Regions from separate parts of the Homo sapiens genome. Here region 2 is linked to region 1. Evidence: fine-mapped expression QTL. A gene starts in region 1. The other region holds a variant in brackets. All regions are shown on one strand. Distances are between the middles of the regions.

Region 1 (2,909 bases):
TATGCAATCCTGTCTGATTAAATGTACACATTTGTTTTACTTCTTTTCAGGCTCCTTCTCACTCTACTTCTGATATTCTGATTAATATCAAAGTTGGGAGTTACAGTGATTCTCCTCTGCCTCCCCCCCAACCCATTTTTATTTTGCCTGCATCTTATTCTTTAGTGTGCAAATGTGGTTGTGATTTTTTTCCAGTGCAGGGGAATTCGTTGGCCTTGTCAATCTCGGTATCATTATTTTTAGTAGTCTTTCTGAGACTTTAGCCTATAAAACAGTTTTGCTGAAACCCCAAACTCTCTAAATATTACATGGCAAATTTGCTTTCTTTTGGAAACCTCGGTGCTGATGGGCCAGCTGAAGTGCAGGTGAGCTTTTTCAGGGAAGGGTGGGACAACAGTACATCCTGGACTCTAGACTAATACTACTCCTAAGAGGCAATTTGCTAAATCCTACTGATTTATTTTTTTCTTTTTTCTCTTTTTCATGTTGTAGTGTCCAGTCTACTTCTTACTGGGTATTTGCAAAAATGAATTTTCTTGCTCTATCACCCAGGAACATTGTGTTTTGGGAGCTGGGTCTTTCCTCTTTAACATAATTCCATTCCCCATTTTGTAGCAAATCAGTCTGCTCCTCCTCTAATACCTAAAAGTCAACAAATACCTGCCTCAAGCCCCAGGTTTCCCATCTTCTCCCGAAGGTCTTCTAGCATCGGTTTGGTTAGCAATTTCCTGCCAGAGCCACCTACATCTTGATTATTTTGGTCAGTCTTTCGGGGATTTCATTTCAGACCCCCTTCGAGAAACACTGTAGCCCAACTGATCCCAGGGGTTGGTGAACTTTCAGTTTTATTTTCCCTGACGGTGTTAACGCCCAAACTTTTCACCTCCTAAGTCAAAAAGGACTTTGACTCTAGCTCATTTCCTACTACCTCCAACGTCAGTTAAAAAAAAAAAAAAAAAAGCAAAACACCACTCTACATTTAAAAGAATCATATATTTTTCCTTAAGGATACTTTTAATGTTTCTGACATTTAGCATTTGTTTTTTGCATAAAAAGTCGTTTTGGCATATCCATCCTAGTGGGACTTAACATTTCATGAAATGATTCACTACTAATAAACAAAAAAGGGAGGAGGGAGGCCTCATGGGTTAATAGTTTCTTTCATTGTAGATGACCAGGAACTTTGACCAGCCCCTTCACTTCCCCAAGCTCTCTGAAAGTGGAGGGTTGATCTTTCCTTTTGACCACTTTTGTCGCATCCCGTCTAAGGGTGGCTGATTTCACTGCTGAATTAACCACCAAGCACCCCCCCACCCCCTCCCCCAGCCACCACTTTCTCAAATACTACCCTTCCTTTTCCCCCTCCCTTAAGACTTATTTCTAATATTTCTAAAGTGCACTGTTTTGGGCCTCTCCCCATCCCCGCCCCCCAAGTGGGCTTTCCTTCCGCCTTCCTCGGCTCGGATTCCTGACTTGGTCGCCACCCCCTTCTCCTCCTCTCCCACCCCGCATTGTCTTTCTGAAACCGCCCCCTCCCGGAGCAAGTCCCTGCACCCTCGCCCAGAATCCCGGGCTCGCACACACTCCGCGCAGGCCGCTCCCCCTGCACACTCCTCCCTCCGTCTCCCCCCGGCTTCCCCGCCCCTCTCTTCCTCCTTCTTTCCCTCCTCCCTCTCCCGGCGCCCGAAAGGATCATTGTTAGCCGCCCCCGCCCCGCCCACCCCGGCTGTTTATTTATGCACACGTCACTGGGCCGGCCCCGCCCTCCGGCATCTCATTAAGGCAGTGTGTTCCTCTCGCCCTGTCAATAATCTCCGCTCCCAGACTACTCCGTTCCTCCGGATTTCGATCCCCCTTTTTCTATCTGTCAATCAGCGCCGCCTTTGAACTGAAAAGCTCTCAGTCTAACTTCAACTCACTCAAATCCGAGCGGCACGAGCACCTCCTGTATCTTCGGCTTCCCCCCCCCTTTGCTCTTTATATCTGACTTCTTGTTGTTGTTGGTGTTTTTTTTTTTTTTACCCCCCTTTTTTATTTATTATTTTTTTGCACATTGATCGGATCCTTGGGAACGAGAGAAAAAAGAAACCCAAACTCACGCGTGCAGAAGATCTCCCCCCCCTTCCCCTCCCCTCCTCCCTCTTTTCCCCTCCCCAGGAGAAAAAGACCCCCAAGCAGAAAAAAGTTCACCTTGGACTCGTCTTTTTCTTGCAATATTTTTTGGGGGGGCAAAACTTTTTGGGGGTGATTTTTTTTGGCTTTTCTTCCTCCTTCATTTTTCTTCCAAAATTGCTGCTGGTGGGTGAAAAAAAAATGCCGCAGCTGAACGGCGGTGGAGGGGATGACCTAGGCGCCAACGACGAACTGATTTCCTTCAAAGACGAGGGCGAACAGGAGGAGAAGAGCTCCGAAAACTCCTCGGCAGAGAGGGATTTAGCTGATGTCAAATCGTCTCTAGTCAATGAATCAGAAACGAATCAAAACAGCTCCTCCGATTCCGAGGTAGGAAAAGCCCCTCGGGCTGGTGGGGTTTTTTATCTGTTTCCTGGGCTTGGCAAATGTTGCTGAAAGGGGAGAAATCGGGGCTGGGGGCGGCGGCGGGGCCCGGCGGGCGGCGTGTGCGTACGGTGCCACCATTGCAAAAACTTGTAACCCTGTTTTTTTCTACCCCCCCCTCGACCTCGCCGATTCTTTTTCTCCCCCTTCTCCCCCTTCTGCGTGGCGTTTGCCCCTCGCCCTCCCCACCTCCACCCCTCTGGGAAGGCGGAAAGACGGCCTCCGCCTCGCTCCGAAAGTTTCCGAGACAAATCCCGGGAAAGTTTGGAAGAAGGTGAGTACGCCCCGCGCGCCCCGCAGCCGCCCGGAGCCGCCCCCCGGGCCGGCCGCCCCGCGCGCCCCGGCCCCGCGCC
Region 2 (2,909 bases), 100 kb before region 1:
AGTAAAGAAGAAACCATCTTGGACAGTCAAGCACACACCAGATAGAGCGGAAGAACCACCCAGCTAAGCCCAATCCAAAATGCTGAATCATGAGAAAAAAAATAATAAACTGTTGTTTTAGGCAACTAAGATTTGGGGGTAGTTTTTTACACAACAATAGCTAATTGAAACATTCCCAGACACAACCGCCATCATGAGACTTTAGGTCTTGTCTTTTTGTTTCAACAGGCTCTTCCCAGCTTCTTGGCCAGCTCTCCCAATCCCCTCCTTGTCAGTTGCTTGTAGTTCTGTAACTGGCAGCAGTGCTGGGATCACCTGCCCAACCAGTTCTTTGTGTGGCCAGGTGTAATTAATTAACTAGCCATTTCTGGGCCCCAGACTGGAGATGCCATTGGTCTTCAATCTCCTCCTTTGATGAGGAGCCCTTGAGCTGGACCCATTAAGGGATAGGCAACGATGACTAGGGCAATTCCAGACACAGAACCCCACCCCTGCTGTCAGTTACAGATGACCTGATGACACAGTCCCTGGCAAATGACCCTGGTCAGACCTTGGAGAGCAGAGAAACCTCAAGAGAGACTTCCAGCAAATGGGGAGTCTCATGAGAAACAACAGAAGTGATCATATTTAATATCACAGGCTGGAGACACAGATCATGGCAGTTACAGGAAACCATACGTTTTCTGTGGATAAGGTCTCCTGGCCTATTACCTTATTCAAGAAACAATTCAATTATTCAGTCCAGCAAACACTTGTTAATTCTTGATGACCACAACCAGAAAGGGAAGCCAGAGAAGCAAAAAAGTGATTATGATGCCTTTTGATAGTGTAGAAACAGAAGTACATACGGAGCCCAGAGACTGCCCTGAGGAGGAAGGGAATGATAATTTCTGGGGGTATTCAGGAAGGCCCCCAGGAGGAGGTGACCATTGAGATGGATTTTGAAGGGCAAATAGGAGTTCACTAGCCATAAAGGGTAGGGGGTCATCTTTCATGGTTGGTAGCCATGATTTGTGGGTGGGTCTACCTGGTTTAAAAACAGAGGAGCAAAGCCAACTTTCTACATGCAGTTCCCAACATGCACACATATTGATCTGATGGTGGGGTGAGGCCAGCTTCTGGACCCATGACCAACTTTGGAGGTCATGACACCCACTGAGGTCTTGGCAGGAAGCAGCCTTAGAAGGCACAAGTGCTGGTGGAATCGACCAGTTACAAAAGTTATCAACACTATGTGAGTTTTTGTACATGGTGTAGCAAGACAGAAGGAACCAAGGAAGAACAAATGGAAAACAACACATGCTAAGCTGTTCATCTGCAACTGTTAAGACTCCAAGTGGTGGCAGTGCCAGCTCAGAGCCCTCCACCTGCTGGAGATGTTTCTA[A/C]ATTGTCTTCACACATGGGCATTCATCCCGCAGTGGGGCTCTCTCTGCCTGAGCCCTGAGGTAAGGTTACAAGTCCTGAAACCCCATTTGTGGAGACGACCCCTCTAGGGAGCTGGAGCCTGGGGCAACCTCGCTCCTTCCTCCACAGTGAAATAGACTGAACCTCCAGCACACTGACCAGCACAGGTCTTGAATGGTGACTCCTGGTCTAGGGCTGGTCCCTTCTTAGAAAACCCGCCTTTCGATGATGGAGGGCTCTGCCTGGGTATCCATTGGAGGGGGCAGCCCTGAGGAAGGAATTACCCCTCTGAAAAGAGCTAATGTCATTCTTGTCACTTTAAATTAACTCTAGCCAAGAGGGACTGACAGAAACATGGATCTGGGTGAACTATATTTGACTGATATTCTGTCAAATATTGCATGGGGTTGTGATCCGCAACTTTTCCCATCTGCTGCTCCAGTCTGAGTCGCTGAATGCACAATGGCATCATTACCATATTTTGTTCAGATTTCCCTCCATCGGATCAGAGCCTGTGAATGTGAAATGTGCCCACAGAAAAAGGCAGCCCTGGCGAGGTGGGTGCAAGGGCGAGGGTGTCCCTTAGTTCTTCCTAAGGGGAGAGCTGGGAAGGGGTAGGGCTCCCCCGGAAGGCGTCCCGGCCCTCACCCAGGAAGGTGCACATCCTGGAAACAAAAGAGGAAGGTGGTGGATCAGGAGTAAGGAGTGGGATTAAGATCACACAAACCTGCAGCCTTTAGAAACTAGCTTAATCCATTTTATAAAGAGTTGGGAGGGTTTTTCTCTCCGTGAATATAATACCTTGCACATCTGATCAGCGTTTTTCCCAGAACATTTCAAAGCTCTCTGCAAATACAGCAAAGTCTCCTTAGATTAGAGCACGGCCTATTATTACCTGGCTTTGGAGACACCCCAGGTCAGCGGGTCACCTGGGGCCTTCTGAAATAAGACAATTCCCTACAACAAAAAGCCTGGTGTGATGTGGTTTGTCTAACTAGTGGTTTTCGAACTATGTGAGTCATGGCACCTTTAAAGGAAAAAAAAAAAAAGAAACAGCCTGAAGCTCAATTTCTAATTCAGAACAAAGTGAAATTAGGTTAAAGTAAAGGGTAAAGAAGAGGGTGAGGGGGAGCAAAGAGAGGTCCACCTGACACCCCATTCACTAAACCCCCAAGACTCCCAAGACCACAATTTGAAGACTACTGTGGAGGTCACTCCTTCCCCAACCAGAAGCAGATTTTCTGTGAAGTTAATGAAACTTAAGTTTCTGCAGAGCACCTTCTGTTCCTAGGTACCTCTTCCAAGACTTGGAACTTAATTTTATTTCTCTTATTTTGTGTTGTTTTTAAAATGAGGGCCCCCCAAATCATATAAGTGTCACAAAAGACCAGCTACATAATTTGGGCAGCCAAGTGCAAAATAAAAACGTGGGGCCCTTTGTTCAAAAACAACTAAAACTTTGAAGATAGCAACACCAGCGCCTTCTTGGCACAGGGCCCTGTGCA

Which allele goes with the higher level. Alleles are on the strand shown, and positions count from the first base shown. SD is a standard deviation of normalised expression in the study named.
As copies of C replace A in region 2, the expression in esophagus mucosa of the gene that starts at base 1,804 in region 1 goes up (small effect, 0.16 SD a copy in GTEx).

The links. PIP is the estimated chance that this variant, and not a neighbour inherited with it, causes the effect.
Region 2: its variant is the best candidate, but not a certain one, in a credible set for the expression of TCF7L2 in esophagus mucosa (GTEx, PIP 0.52).

The regions. Positions count from the first base shown.
Region 1 is chr10:112,948,444-112,951,352 of GRCh38, forward strand. It overlaps TCF7L2 (transcription factor 7 like 2), which reads left to right and starts at 1,804. Exons shown (of 15, transcript NM_001367943.1): 1 at 1,804-2,502; 2 at 2,764-2,830. The coding sequence starts at 2,314. It overlaps LOC124902502 (a long non-coding RNA gene), which reads right to left. Exons shown (of 2, transcript XR_007062291.1): 2 at 2,186-2,564.
Region 2 is chr10:112,847,919-112,850,827 of GRCh38, forward strand. It overlaps a transcript of VTI1A not described here. Among named protein-coding and RNA genes, the nearest start is that of LINC02935, 42 kb to the right of the region's middle. The variant A/C (reference allele first, on the strand shown) is at 1,386.